Regions from separate parts of the Homo sapiens genome. Here region 2 is linked to region 1. The links come from fine-mapping of genetic effects on gene expression. Tissue or cell type: putamen. Region 1 holds a variant in brackets; the other region holds the start of a gene. All regions are shown on one strand. Distances are between the middles of the regions.

What was found. PIP is the estimated chance that this variant, and not a neighbour inherited with it, causes the effect.
Region 2: it holds the start of HTATIP2, and the variant in region 1 is fine-mapped to the expression of HTATIP2 in putamen (GTEx, PIP above 0.99).

Annotation. Positions count from the first base shown.
Region 1 is chr11:21,068,639-21,076,744 of GRCh38, forward strand. All of the region lies in intron 12 of NELL1 (neural EGFL like 1), which reads left to right. Among named protein-coding and RNA genes, the nearest start is that of NELL1-AS1, 190 kb to the right of the region's middle. The variant G/A (reference allele first, on the strand shown) is at 4,617.
Region 2 is chr11:20,359,548-20,367,653 of GRCh38, forward strand. HTATIP2 (HIV-1 Tat interactive protein 2) reads left to right here and starts at 4,167. Exons shown (of 5, transcript NM_001098522.2): 1 at 4,167-4,885; 2 at 7,627-7,734. The coding sequence starts at 4,691. RefSeq lists enhancers at 1,186-1,405, 7,700-8,106 and silencers at 4,168-4,587, 4,374-4,516.

The DNA.
Region 1 (8,106 bases):
TGCAGCCAGTGGGCGGGGCTGCTGAGCAAAAAGGCCAGTCCACCGATAATGCAGATTGTTTGCTATTGACGATTAGATTCAGGATCCCAAGTGCCTCCAATAGCTGTGCAGTGTGGCTAGAGGTGCATTGAATAAATACTTGGGGCTGAATTAATTGAGCAGAACTACCTTTTGAATACCTAAAGTTTGCCTGAAGGAAATCTTCAGGGCCTTGGAGAGTGCTTAATATGTATTAAATAAATGAGGCTTTCGGGGCCTGGGGAGCCCCTAAATTAAGGCAGTGACAAAGGGAATGGATTAGCTCTAAACATGGGTGTATACATAAATGTACACATTCCTTTGGAGTCCACATTTCTTTGGACTCAAATCCTACAGAATACAACCAGACACTGCTTTTCATTCAGAATTTTCTTTCTTGTGGAAACACTCCATTTGGCTCTTGTAATTTGGATTTGAAAGTAGTGAATGTCTGTGTCCATTTGGCACGAACAGAAGGCCTTAGAATTTGGACACAGGAAGAATAGCTAATGGATACAGGGCTTAATACCTTGGTGATGGGATGATCTGTGCAGCAAACCACCAGGACACACATTTACCTATGTAACAAAGCTGCACGTCCTGCACATGTACCCTTGAACTTAACATAAAAGTTAGAAAAAATAAAAAAGAAAGAAAACAGACATGTTTGTTCTTCAACTCTTTTGAATGGTTTATTGCATGGAAAATTGTTACTCACAGTATCATCCATTTACAGTGAGAGCTTCTATAAGTTGTCAACACCACTTAAAGACATCAATAAGTAGAGTCTTTGGACACTACTGATGGCTGGCACCTGACTTAATAGAGGGACTGGCACTCTGGAGGGAGGAGGAATGGAAGGGAAGCAACATGGGGAGTAAAATCTATGCATTTAGTCCAGTAAGTCCCACCCTTTTGTGAAGCTGTTTGACCTGATGTCATCTAATTAAAGCTACTCTTCCATACAAAGCATTGTGTGACATATATATTTAAAATTATGTTTAAAATTAACTAGATTTTTGGTTTGAAGTATTATTTGTAGAATTTTAGTATCTTTCTTGACTGAAATGATTGTGATACTGTAGGGTGGGAATCACTGATTAAGGGCCGGTGGTGTAGACTAGAAAAATATGGATTTTGCAGGCAGGAGGCCAGGCTCCCCTGTCAATTTCACCACTTGCTATCTGTGTGATCCTGTTTGGGAAAGCCATGTAACCTCTCTGAGCTTCTTTAAGCTTTAAATAGTTGAAATGTGTGGACACAATGTCCAACACACAGTAAGTGCGCTATAAATCCTTACTTTCATTCCTTCCCTTCTTTCAAATAGATAGACGCTCATAGATAATAATGATGCTGTCAGGAACCATGTGATAACGTATATTGGAGGGACAAAATAGTTTCCTTGCCTGAAATGACGGGTTTGCTCATCTCACACCTCGACTAACCTACTTACTGAGTCACTCCAAGGCTGTTTTTTTTTTTGAAGTAGCCTAATGCCAAACATATGCTGACAGTGATTTCAATGTGGAGCCTTGTACTAAATTAAATGAGAAGAAAACTCAAAGGCAGCTGGATGTACACTAGTATCTATACATATCTTGTCTCCTTGGAGGTTTTCTCATTTAATAGAGGTAGAAAATTTCAGGAGTTAAACTGCCCTTATAAAGAAATGAAGGTTTTAAAATTAGTAGACTTGGTGTTTGAGGATCCTGGATGAACTTTAATCTAGAGTTTTTTATACTCTCCAAATGGTATTATAAGGTTGGCTTCTCAGAGACTAAAGTAAGAGCTAAAAGGAATTAGAAAACCAGATGTTGGGGCTGATTCAATAGCAGTAAATCTTATTGCTGTTCCAGGGGCTCCATGAGGATTCTGCTACTGAAATTGAACAATATTTTTCCTAATTTGCAAAAAAATACATTAATACAGAGAGTGTGCTTATTTTCTAGGTTTGCATCCATGCTTTTTCTTAATTTTGGCACCTGCTATTTCTTGCCTTTTCCAGAGTCTTGTGTGAGCCGAGCATATACCATTCAGCACAGTATTATTTGAGTATAATGTTTCAATAGTTCATGATGAGTTGCAGAGCAACCATGACATTCAAGTTAGCGTCTCATAAAATCTGAGAATCATTGTCTGAGATTTGAGCCTAAAGATGCCTTAAAAAGCATCTTTAAGTATGAGTGACCTTAGCCAGGTCAACTATCCCTCTTGCCAGATCGAAAATATCAGAAAAATACTTTTTCTCTCCCTTATTCTGACAACAGGGAGCACTACTTATCATGCTTACTTAAAAACTGACAAACACATCTCCCATTGTAAAGACGCTAAGCATTTTAAGTGCTAACCTTGTTTTTAGCCCTCCTACTTCATATAGTCCAGGTTTGCCTCAGAATCTCAGAACATCACCATAGCTATGAGGTTAAGAGTGTAGTTTTGCAGTCAGGGTGACTTGGTTTTAAATCCTGCCCCATTCGCTGTGTAATCTTGGGCAAATTTGGGGCCTCAGTTTTATTATTTGCAAAATATAAATAGTAACACCTCACTAGTAAGTTTGTTGTGATGATAAATAAATTAATAAGCCAGAATTGCATACTCTCTTTGGAGAAGGGATCACCTCTGGTTTAAACATTGCAGTAACTCCAGTGCCCATAGCATACACTCAGTAAATATTACAAAAGAAAATTAATGGATAATGCATCTTAAGCAGTTGGCAACATGTCTGGCACATATTGGCCTCTCAATAAATAGTAAAGATGGCAATAATAATAATGGTAGTTGTTGTATCATTATCATTAAGTTACTACATCTTTTGAAATAAATTTTGAAAAACTACAAAGAATATTTTGCGGCTGGAAGACTGGATATGTTTAAAATGACATTTCCGAAGGCAGCCTCCTAAACTTCAATGCCCTTTTCATATCATCAGTGTAGCTTTGGACAAAACAGTCTCTGGCCATGTCTTATTTCACAAGGCCAAACTTTGAGAATAATCTGACTTCCAGTCTCCCTCTCTTGCAAGCTGTGTTTCCAGACTGTTGAGTGGCTCCTGGAAGCAGCAGGTGGTTCATGGATGCAGACATCAGGAATCAAAGCTCGGCTCTAAGAGGGGAGAGGATGGAAAGTTCTTTGAGTCCTTTTGGCTGAATAGGTGTCTTAATGAGATGATCACTCCAGGAAGCATTTCTATTTCCTTCCTTTAAATAATGAGAGTATCTTTGAGTGAATGTATTTACCTTCCTTCAGGCTTAGTTTCTTTGATCTCTGATGACTCACTTTGTCTCACAACAATGATCAGGGTCTTCATTATGCTGCCCAATTTGGTAGCAGAAGCCCATGAGAAGCAAAAATTTGGAAGCCACAATTTTCTCATTATCATGGGGATTAGGTTGCCTTGTCAACAATATATGCAGAAGAGAATAAATTTAAACTAGCAACTAAGATATATTTATCAAGACCTGGTCTATTAACTTGTTTAGCTTTGTTGTGCAAGCCATTCAAGTTTCTAATGTGGCAGGTGAACTTTTGGGTAGCTTATGTTGCTAATAGCCAAATGGCATATAATAATCAAAGCAATAAATGTGGGTATTATTAAGCACAAGCGCAATGGCCCGAAATAGAATTGCTGAGTGCTTATAAATTACTCTATTATTATTTGAAGGAAAGAACAATCCAAGTTGAAATATGGAAGCTACACACCACACAGTTCTTTCACTATTATTGTCCTGTATAAGGTGATCTCTGGGTTTTATTTACAATTCTCAGATAAGTTATTTTTTCTCCCCAGCTGCAGAACTCAGTCTTGAATTCCATTTTCATTTTAAACATCAATAGTTCATTGTATAAGAGCATTCTTCATGCTGCAAGTTCTTGGCATTTTCTATGAGGAATATAGCACAGTAACAATTCTTTATAGGGATAGGAGAAATAAGACATGACAGACTAAAGATAGGTGGTTAAGTTGTAACAAAACCCAGCATATAAAGCTTGGCAAAGATTTATACAGAGAAGCAAAACTACTGTTCATGCCAGAGAAATCAGTAAAGAGGAACTGAAAAAGAAGTGAAGAACGTATGCTTCAAAGCTATAATGAGACTTGGCTGCCTCAGGCAGTATCAGTAAGGAATAACATGCCCTAATTTTGTTGTCTTAGAAGCAAAACATTTCTTTTTCTGTTGATTATTCAGAATATGTGCCATTAGCCATATGTGTACATTTTAGTCAGCAATACAGCTGTAGCCCATATTTCATTAACATGTGTTCTGCTTCCTGCTCGAACACACAACACGCAGAAATGTGTCCCTGACCTTTTAATCTAGCTTGCTCTTTCTTCCTTCATTTCCCCATCGTTTATAATAGCAAGATCCCTGAACCCTCTCCTAGACCACCTCCCTCCTTTTTCTCTGTTGCTGGCATTGTAGGTGTCTCGTCAATTTGGTAGAAGATGTCTTGGAATAGAGCCTCTCAAAACCTGGAAATTATGTTGAGTCTGTTTGATCTGATTACCTTGGAGGCAGATGACAAACTTTCATCAGCTCTAGCATTTTGTAAATAATCTTTGGTAACCATCATGGGTCATCTTTGAGTAGATTACTTGG[G/A]ATCCATCTAGAGTCTCAGTGCCTGGAGATTTTAAAGAAAAAATCAGAGGGTACACGTTCCAGGATGGCTTGGGTCAGTTTGCTGAATGGAAGAAGGAAAAATACAGGTATACACCAATTTTGGGTCCATTGTGGTCTGACAATTTTGGGAATCTATGGTTGGATATATATGGACGTCAGCAAGTACAACTTATCTAACGAATGAGTTGATTTTCAAGTTGAGTCCTTGTGTAATGGCTTAGTGTTGAGCCAAAGAAATGCCAGACCTTTGAATCTGCATGTCTTCATGGGTAGGGCAAGACCTTGATGCTTAAAGCCCATGTATGGCATCACAGCTGTATGTGATCAAAGACTACTTGGTGGGGTCTGAAGGTAATACAAGCTCACAGAACCAAATGTTATTATGAACAAGCACAGTCAGGGAAGGCTTCCTGGAGGAAGTAGCATTTGCAATGAGATTTGAAGGAAGTAAAATGAAAACATTAAAAGTAGTTGAGTTGTTTCATTATTTTACATTTTAGTAATATATTTCTAAACGTTACTTCGGTTGCTAGATTCAACCAATTAATTCGAGTGCTATAAATAGAAAATGAATAAATTTTTCAATTATCTGTTTAGAAATGTACAAAGAGAATGGAGGTAGTTTTAAAGAGGCTTCTTTTAGGCAAACAACAACAACAAAAAAGATTTAAGCTAAAGAATATAGGAAACTACCTCATTCCAATAGGTGTTGAATGTCAAGTAGTCAGAAATTTTTTAAAAATTGGAATTATATACTGGAAAACTAGAGGAAGGCTGGAAAAGTCAGAGTCTTTAAGCCTTATTGGTTGAGGATGAGTTCTCGTGTCAAATTACATTTCTAAGAGAATAAGATTCTTGCGACTCAAGATGTGGTTCTGGGACCAGTAACATCAGCATAAACTGGGATTCTATTAAAAATACATAATCTGAGTACCCTCCCAGACCTACTGAATCAGATTCTGCATATTAACGAGACTCCTGGATCATTTGTACACACTTTAACATTTGAGAGGCAGCAGAATTCTCAGATGGACAGCCTGTTGTAATGCTGTGGTACCCAGCTGATAATCAGCAGAATCATCTAGGTGGTATTTGTTAAATTTAATTAAAACATTTTTTTAACAGTAACTCAGATCTAATGAGTCAGAAGTTGGGGGCTGTGGTAGGCAGAGGTTGTAGAAACTGTATTATATATAATATAGAGGTTTCTACATTTCAAAGAGTTTCACAGGCAATTCTGGTAATCCAGGTTTGGATGCTGCTGATGTATGAGACTAGAGTAGTGATTCATAACTCTAACTGCTCTCTAGAATCATTTGTGATGTTTAAAAAAATTATAATGCTAGGTTCAGTCCTCCAGAGATACTGATTTAATTAGCCTTGGGTGGAATTTACACATGTGTTTTTTTTTTAAAGCAGACTTACTTAGATATAATTTATATACCACAAAGTTCATCCATACAGCAACTTTTTTTAAAAAAGGTTTCAGGATAATTCTGATGTGCAGTCAAGCCTGAGAACCCCTGGAGAAAGACTAGCAGGAGGCTCTTATATACTCCCATTGGGAAACAAAGAGATCTGATTTTCAGTAGTGTCAATGAATGAAGTCTGTACGGATGTGTGAGGCTAAGATGTAGAGAGAAATTCAGAGAATTCTCTGAGGTTGAATTAACAGATTTTAAAAATTAATTTTGCATGGGTAGAGAACTAATTCAATAGTCTAGGATTATGTCAGTTTCATTTGACCGACTAGATGGATAGTGACACCTGTGGGCTCACTTCCCTCTTTCCTGTGTAGGGCTCATTTTTATTCAGAGATTAGGGAAATGGCAAGAGGCATAAAATATTTAGACTTTCAGATTATTTATGAAATTCAACATAGCCAAATTCAGCAGGAGCAACAATAGGTATACTACACCCAAGAAACTCCTGAATATCGGAATTTAGTACCTTTTAAATCTGCAATTAAAGACAATCTGTGTTGTGATCTATCCCTTGTTTGTTGCACAGACCCTTCTTCATACCTCCATGTATCTTCCTTAAAGGTGGGTTGATAAGAAGTACATATATTGCTACACTCTGAATACTCTTTATTTACACATGCCTGTTTTTACTATAATATCACAAGGAAGAGGCAGGAGCTTCATGCTTGAGGTAACCATGAGTGGTTCATTCTCAGATCAGTCTTTGTTTGTTTGTTTGTTTTTTGAGACAGGGTCTCACTCTGTCACCCAGGCTGGAGTGCAGTGATACACTACAATGGTACAATAATGTCTCACTACTGCCTTGAACTCCTGGGCTCAAGTGATTCTCCCACCTCAGCCTGGATAATTTTTAATTGTTTTCTTGCAGAGACATGGGGTTCCATTATGTTTGCTTAGGCTTGTCTCAAACACCTATGCTCAAGTGATCCTCCTAAAGTGCTGGGATTACAGGCGTGAGCCACCAGACCTGGCCTAAGATCAGTCTTTGACAAGATCTCAGCTCTACAGTGTTTTCAACTCACTTTACTCTTGAATTCATAAGAATGTAAATTTCCAGCAATTTTCTCCTTTTATTTTTCTATAATCGGTCATGGGGTACAGAGTTCAGAAGAAGTATAGTTATTGAGCATGGTCAGGAGATAAACCTGGTCTTAGAACAGTAGGAATAATTGTTGGAATCTATTAGAACCTCTAACTATGAATCTCTTGGAATTTTATTGATTCTGAGCAAATTTTTATAAACACATACAAACACATACATAACTGGACATTTTAACTGTTAACTAAGGATGACTAAAACAGTTTTCCAGAGTCTGAGGGAAGTTTTATTGAGTTGGATTGAAAAACAGCTGTGGAAACGGTCTTTTATTCTCTGTATGTGATTGGCACAGTTAATAGAAAAGGATTGGAAGCAGGCTCAACGCCTTCAGTGTTTAGGATGAATGAGATTCCACATCAACCAGAAATGGGGCTGACCCTGTGTAACACGGATACCACATTCTAGGTGGATGGAGTCAGGGTTTCCCCTCAGTTCCTCTTCATTGGCCCCTCACTTTCATCCACTAGAGCCTGTAACTGTAAACAAGGTTTGGGACGTTGTTGGGATCTGTGGTTATTTCACACACAGTGGTGGAGGCAAGGCTGATGGAGAAAGTGACCTGGAAATAGTACATGTGTTAGGAATTATGGCTTTTCATTGGCTGAATTTGGTTAAAGAAGGAAGTTAAACTCTCTCAGTTTCCTAGGACAAAAATCCTTCTCAGACTCACAGAGCCAGGCAGTGGAGGTAAGAGAATACGTTATCTCTAGCCAGCGGAGCTGTATTTGATGAGTGAGCAAAGGTTTATTCATGTTGCTATAATTTGGATGCTTGTGCCCTGAAAACTCATGTTGAAATTTGATCCCCAGTGTTGGAGGTAGGGCCTAATTGGAGGTGTTTGGGTAAAGGGGGCAGATAGCGCATGAATGCCTTGGTGCTGTCCTCT
Region 2 (8,106 bases), 710 kb before region 1:
AGACAATGAAGAGTATGAGCAAGAGCACAGCCTTTGGGTCATCTTGCAGGGTCTGAGAGTAAGGCCGACGTGAAGGGAAATAGAGCCATGGTTGGCAGAGGGACTGGGTCCTGGCCCCATTGGCTGACTGGCTGATTCTGGTCATGCCAAGACTATTATATACACTGATTCTTTAGTTGCATGAGCCAGGACATTTCCTTTTTTTTTTTCCTCAAAACATTTTGAGTTTGGGGCTTCAAACACGTGAAACAGAGTCTTAATGAAGGTATAACTAAAAATATAGCTCTGAAGTGAAGATGCATGGATCCCTGATCCTGAGGACTCTAAATCTGACCTAAATACAGTTCCAGTCTCCCTAAGGCCCCATCCTACAGCAGATCCTGTTTTGAGATTTCTCTGAGATTCTGTCTCTCTTATACATGATTTATAGCCTTACAATATTACAATATTCACCATCTTTACTCGCCATGAGTCAGTTTGTTCCTTGGAGCAAAGCGAATGTAATGAAACAGTTCCCATCTTACAGATAGGGAAATGGAGGCCAAGATATATGAAGAGACTTCATCAAAGGCAAACCTGAACGTGGCAGGCAGGTCTCTGGCCAAGGATCTTTCCATGCCAGCTCCGTTTCTTTATGTCCCCTTTCCCTCCTTCCCTATGCTTTCCCCTTCCCCTTTGCCCTGAATTTTTGTGGTCCGGTTGCTCTAGGAGCCTAGGTCTTGTCACATTATCTCAGCACTTGGATGACATGGTTCCAGCTGTCAGAGAAGGAAAGGCATGGACTTGTTTTTCTCTGAGTTTCCTTCTATTTCTGTATGCTCATTTGGCCTTCAGCATGTGCCACCCTGTGAAAGTTTGGGGGATGTTTTATAATGTTGCTTAACTTTATTTAGCTTCCCAAGTATTTATGACTTGCCTTCAAGATGAGAGTGAATTTAGCTGGTGTCCCTGATTCACCTTGGAAAAATCTATTGTGCCTAGCACAGTATCTGGCTTGCATTAGATAATCAGTAAATATCCATTGACAAGATTGACTAAAAGAATCTTACATTAGGCAAAATGCTGGCTAAGCTGCTGTAACAAAATTACAGTGGCTCCAACATGACAGAAGTTGATTTTTCTCTCACTCCCCAGAGGTGTGCCGGCAGTCCAGGGTGGGCAGGCGGCTCTGTTCTATGAAGTCATCCAAGGGCTCCTTGCCCTGCTATCCTCTAGAGAGTGTCTTTCTCCTCATGGTCAGAGCTGGTTTACCAGTACATTCACATTCTGGCCTAAGCAAAGGGGGAAAGGGAAAGTGAAGGGAAAGGGAAAGTGAAAGGAAAGAAGGTAACTTCCTTATAAAGATGTGATTCAAATGTGCACATATTACCTCTGCTTGCTTCTCGTTGGCTAAATCACTGTCACGTGCTCGTGCTAGCTTGCAAGTGTGTTGTGGGAAGTCAGGGACCCCGAATGGAGGGACTGCCTGGAGCTCCGGCAGAGGAACATAAATTGTGAAGATTTCATGGACACTTATCGGTTCCCAAATAATACTTTTATAATTTCTTATGCCTGTCTTTACTTTAATCTCTTAATCCTGTTATCTTCGTAAGCTGAGGATATACGTCACCTCAGGACCACTATGATAACTGTATTAACTGTACAAATTGATTGTAAAACGTGTGTTTGAACAATATGAAATCAGTGCACCTTGAAAAAGAACAGAATAACAGCAATTTTTAGGGGACAAGGGAAGACAACCAAAAGGTCTGATTGCCTGCAGGGTCATTATATTATATATATATATATATATATATATATATATATATATATATATATACACACACACACACACATCTTATATATATATACACATTTTATATATATATATACACATTTTATATATATACACACATTATATATACACACACATTATATATATACACATTATATATACACATTATATATACACACATTATATATATACACATTTTATATATATATACACATTATATATATATATAAAACATTATATGTGTGTGTGTGTGTGTGTATATATATGTCCAAGAGTAATGAAAACATGTTACTGCAGAAAGACTGGTCCAATAATGTTCATAGGAGCCTTATTCATAATTAGCCAAAAGGTAGAAACAAACCAAATGTCCATCAACAGGAGAATATTTAAACATGTTGTGGGATATTCATACTGGAATACTGGAAGGCTACTCAGCAATAAAAAGGAATGAATTCCTGATACATGAAACAACCAGGGCTGATTTACTCATTTGGCACAGTAGGCACAGTTCTGGGGCCTGTGAAAATAAACTTTTAGGTGGAAGAAAATGTTTTAGGTGAAAGAAATTGTCATATTCATCTTTATAGCAACATAGTCATAAGACATAATTTTTGATTATATAAATAGTTTGTCATATTCATCTTTATAGCAACATAGTCATAAGACATAATTTTTGATTATATAGTGTGTGTACATAAAATGAAGGGGCTCATGAAGTGCTTAGGGCCCATAGAAATCATAATGCAGGCCTACAAACAAGAATAAATACTAAAATATGTGTTAAGCCAAAAACCTGGGACACAAAAGAGTACATGCTGTACTCTTAAATAGAATTCTACAACAGGCAAAACTAATCTATGTTGATAGTGACCAGAAAGTGATTACCTCTGGAGTGGGGAGAGATTGCAAGAAGGGAATGAAGGCACTTTCAGGGATGGCAGACATGCTCTATATCTTGTTTTTGGTGGTGGTTATTTAGGTGTATATACAATCTCCTAAAATCATGGAACAGAACCTTTAGGTTCTGTACATTTTATTGTATATTAATTATGCCACAATTTTAAACAAAGGGGAAGAATAGACAGGGTACAATGAATAATTTCTGTGACAGATTTGATAAATGAATTACTAGGACAGTGTTTGCTGACAAGGTTTAACATTGCATTCTTGTAGAAAACCTTTAGGAACTCAAAGGGAAGAGTCCAGGCACTGTGACAGGCCAGTGGGGAATGAACCACACTGCTCTATATTAATCAAGCTTTTTTATTGCAAACAACAGAATATATCTGGTAAGCTTATACAGCACAGGAATTTATCAGAAGAATAACAGGAAGTACTGTATTCACAACAGTCTCTGAAAACAGGCAGGAATTTAAGACAAGATCAGACCATCAGATGGCTGGTGGATCATATGATGCCATAATCCTATACCCTTGCCCCAACCAACCCACATATATCTCAGGCCTTCACTGCATCTTTTCATTACTCCTCCAAAACTGAAAACCTATGCGTGAGCCTCTGGCTTGCTGAGCCTAGGCAAAGCCTACATATAATAACTCCCATGGAGATGGAAGAGGCAATGTGTTTCATTGGCTTCTAGATGGGAGGTGGGGCCCCCAAATGACCAATGTTCCCAACAAAACCTGAACAATCTGAAATTATTCAGATTTCTGCTTGTCATTCTAACCTCTGTTCAGGACTTCCAAGATCCAGGACAGGCCCAGTGTAGATACCTGTGTCCCAAACCACTGATCTGGGCTAGGAAGACTGAATCACAGGTGTGGAAGGTCACCCGGGTTCAACCATCTAGGTGATGAATTAGGCCAGGACCTGGGCAGGTAGACCATTTATTCTGGGGAGATATGATGCGAGCTTGAATTACATGGGAGAAATATTTGTAAGGCAGATGGGATAACAGGACTTGATAAGTCTGTAGTGTGGAAAGGCTAGAAAAGAAAGGAATCAAAGGAATCCTGATTTCTGACTTGACAGGGTAGAAGGAGGTGTGTGTGTGTGTGCGTGTGTGTGTGTATGTTTATGTAGGGACAGTGACACCCAAGAGAGGCTAGGAATAGGTTTGTTTTATTCCTGTTTGGGGTGGTTGGGTAGGCAGGGTTAAGTTTTTGACTTGGTGAATTTGAGATGATGGCCAATATACAATTGACATTCCAGCTGGGGGGACCATTGAAGATCAAGTCTGGCAAGTCTACTAGCTGGCGCCTGGGTGAGCTGAGCCCAGCAGGTGAGGGAAAACGCGGGAAGAGGGTCTTGCAGATTCCAAACTTAGGAAGGGTCGCGGCTCCGCGCACGTGCTCTCGGGGTCACCTTCCCCGCGCCTGTGAGGGTGCCAGGAGTTCGTCTCCAGGTCCCGCCCCTGTGGGCGGGGCGAGGCAGCGTCGCCGCGAGGCCACCCGGAAGACCAAGCCGGGTAGGCGCTGTCTCCGTCGCCTCCAACCCCCCCGGTCCGACCAGGGAAGGTGGGATGCTCTGATGGCCGGGCCTGCGGCGCTGAGCGCGGCGGCGGCGGCTGCTCTGGCGGCCGCCCTGCTCCTGCTGCGTCGTGAGGACCCGGGGCCGGGGGCTGGCCCCAGGTAACCCCTCCGCGTATGGGACCGAGCTGGGCCAGGTCTCCTGGCCGGGCCGGGGATACCGTGGGGTATGCCCAGTGATGCCAGCAGCTTGTGGCACCTGGGCGCACCCTCCAGCTCGGGCCCCTTCCGATGGGTCTGCTGGCTCAGGTGCGGGCGATGGCCGGGGAGCCGCGCCCCGCACGTGACTCAGCACTTTCCCCAGAGCCCGGACTGCGGAGAACAATATCCTCCTCCCTAACAGATAAACAGCCCTTGTTCCTCGGGATAAGGACTGGCAGTCCCCTGACACCCTAAGACCGGCATCTGTCGATGTTATTTCCCCAGCATGGCCGAAACAGAAGCCCTGTCGAAGCTTCGGGAAGACTTCAGGATGCAGAATAAATCCGTCTTTATTTTGGGCGCCAGCGGAGAAACCGGCAGAGTGCTCTTAAAGGAAATCCTGGAGCAGGGCCTGTTTTCCAAAGTCACGCTCATTGGCCGGAGGAAGCTCACCTTCGACGAGGAAGCTTATAAAAATGTGGTGGGTATTTCAGCTGGGACTCAAATGGACCCCCAGGATTCTGCGAGGTGAACATATTTCATGCCTAAAGGCTGAATACTGCCCTGCCAGTGGTGGGGGTAGTGAGAGGCCATCAAAACTTGGCCAAGATTGGTCTGTGAGAGTCCCTCCCAGAAGTCTGACTCCTGGATTGTAGCCCAGGTGTGCCTCCCTCCCGCTCATTGTGTGGTCTTGGGCAAAGCCCTTCTCTCCATCTGCAACCCTATAAAGCTGGGTCTGGGTTGTAATGGGGGTGGGGGCTGGTGAGACAGAAGAGCACTGTTTTCAGGGTCATACAAGCTGTATTCTAGAGGCAGCCCTGGTGACCTTGAGAATTTTCTCAGCCACTTTGCTGATTTTGTCAACCTGCGCACTTCACACTAATATTGTCAGGGATTCTGAAACTGCTTTGCAGAGTGAGATAGGTCTATGGCAGTGAAAGGTGGGATTATTCACTTACAAGAATTTGCCCTGCCTGACTTCCCAGGCTTGTGTCTGTAAATCGGATATTCCCTTCACTCTAAGTTAAAGGTTTTTTTTTTTTTTTTTCTGAGACGGAGTCTCACTCTGTCCCCCAGGCTGGAGTGCAGTGGCACGATCTCGGCTCAGTGCAACCTCTGCCTTTCAGGTTCAAGCGATTCTTCTGCCTCAGCCTCCCGAGTAACTGGAACTACAGGCGTGCGTCACCACTCCTGGCTAACTTTTGTATTTTTAGTAGAGACGAGACAAGGTTTCACCATGTTGGCCAGGCTGGTCTCGAACTCTTGACCTCAGATGATGCTCCCGCTTCAGCCTCCCAAAGTGCTGCGATTACAGGCGTGAGCCACCGCGCCCAGCCTAAGTTACACTTTTATGATTATAGGAATGATATACCAGACTTCTGTCTTGTCATGACCCCCTAAATATCAGAAGCCTGAGTTTCTTGGAGATTCTGTTCTTTATTTAAAGGGAATTATCTGTGAACTGCAACAAATTAACATAGTGTGATCTCAAGACACCACAGCTACAGAATTTGGCCCCACAGGTTTCATAGAAAGAACATTTCAAATAACAAGCCATCTTGCAAATAAATGTTCTTGATTCTCGCAGGTCTGTGTTCAGGTCATGGTGTGAATGCCTTTGGTCCATCAAGTCTTGTTTATTTAAAACAGACATCTTTCCTCAGGCTGAGGCAGATGTGTTCTCACCGGTTTCATGGGCTGTGTCAGATATTCATGGTAATTAGAAGCTGAAACTGAAGGCTGGGCGTGGTGGCTCATGCCTGTAATCCCAGAGCTTTGGGAGTCCGAGGCAGGGGATCTCTTGAGGTCAAGAGTTCCAGACCAGCCTGGCCAACATGGTGAAACCCTGTCTCTACTAAAAATACAGAAATTAGCTGGGCGTGGTGGTGCACGCCTGTAATCTCAGCTACTCAGGAGGCGGAGGTGCGAGAATCACTTGAACCCAGGAGATGGAGGTTGCAGTGAGCAGAAATTGTGCCACTGCACTCCAGCCTGGGTGACAGAGCGAGACTCTGTCTCAAAAAAAAAAAAAAAAAAAGAAAAGAAACAAATTGAAATCTGTGTTTTGAGTGTCGAGTTTTGGTGGCACATCTGTTTGACTAGGTACTTTGTGAAACCCTATTTTTCTTTTTCTTTTCTTTTCTTTTCTTTTTTTTTTTTTTTTTTTTGAGATGGAGTCTCACTCTGTCGCCCAGTCTGGAGTGCAGTGGTGCGATCTCAGCTCACTGCAAGCTCCGCTTCCTGGGTTCACGCCATTCTCCTGCCTCAGCCTCCCGAGTAGCTGCAACTACAGGTGCCTACCACCACAACCGGCTAATTTTTTTTTTGCATTTTTAGTAGAGACGGGGTTTCACCATGTTAGCCAGGATGGTCTCGATCTCCTGACCTCGTGATCCACCCACCTCAGCCTCCCAAAGTGCTGGGATTAACAGTGAAACCCTATTTTTCTTTAGTGTCATAGGCAGTGCCAGAAAAATTCTTTTCAGAGTTGACAGTAAGGATGGAAACCAACATTTTATCGGAGTTCTTGGATGATAGGAATTTATCATGCTTTCTTTTTTAAGTTATACAGCAAACTGATAAGGTTAGATGGAGGTTCGTAAACTTCTGTGTGCATGAGAATTAAGGTGGGTGCTTGTTAAAAGTGCAGATTCTGATTCAGAACTATTGGTGTGGGATGTAGGAATATGCCTTTTTATTAAGCACTCCCTGACTAATTATAATGCAAATGGTTCATGGATTGGACTGAAGGAAAGATTATCACCCCCATTTTACAGCTGAAAAAAAAAAGCTGTAGTGTATGATGAATAATTTGCCCGTAACTACATGCCTAGTGAGTGTAGCAAGCCCAAGATTTGCAGCTAGGTCTTCTTTAAGATGCCAAACGCCATCTCTTGCCCTCACATCATACCTCAGTGGTCTCCTTCCTGGTTAGCTACACACAGGTCTTTTATTTTTCCAGAGAGAGATTATAATCGAACCTGACTTCAGAAATCTGGATCACCCCTAGTCCAGTTATATAGACTGTGGACATATGTGTGTGTTGTTGATTTTCAACTGAGGTTCATTGCTTTTTGGTTGGAGAAAAGGAATTTGTAAAATTTGATGTTAAGTGGACAGGCCTGTCAGTAATGTTCTGTAACTTAGTCTTTAAATCTAGAGGGGGTTTTTGGTCTGTTGTTTAAATAACATGAAACTACATACAACTGTGTCCTTGCCTAGAATCAAGAAGTGGTGGACTTTGAAAAGTTGGATGACTACGCCTCTGCCTTTCAAGGTCATGATGTTGGATTCTGTTGCCTGGGTACCACCAGAGGGAAAGCTGGGGCGGTAAGGAAGGCATATGCTCTTTTCCCTTTTTGCTGGCCAGTAATATCAAGGATTCTTTTCTTGCTCACTCTTTTTCTTTGTGCCTGTTGCAATGCTTAAATGTGAATAAGCCTTTATTGTTTAAGATTCTATATGCTGCACTAACCTTTGGTATCCTTTTAATAGTACTGATAAGTTCGTCTTTCAAAGTAATCCTTGAGTTCAGGCCCCAGTGCTGGAGACGTCGTAAATATTTACATGATTTTGCCTATTGTGATTATCGCTATCACTACATCCCCTGACTAAGGGAAACCATGATGTCTGAGTAAAACTAATTGGTTTATGCTGTTAACAATCAGCTGTTTTTCCCCTTAATAAATGTTTGAAATTTGA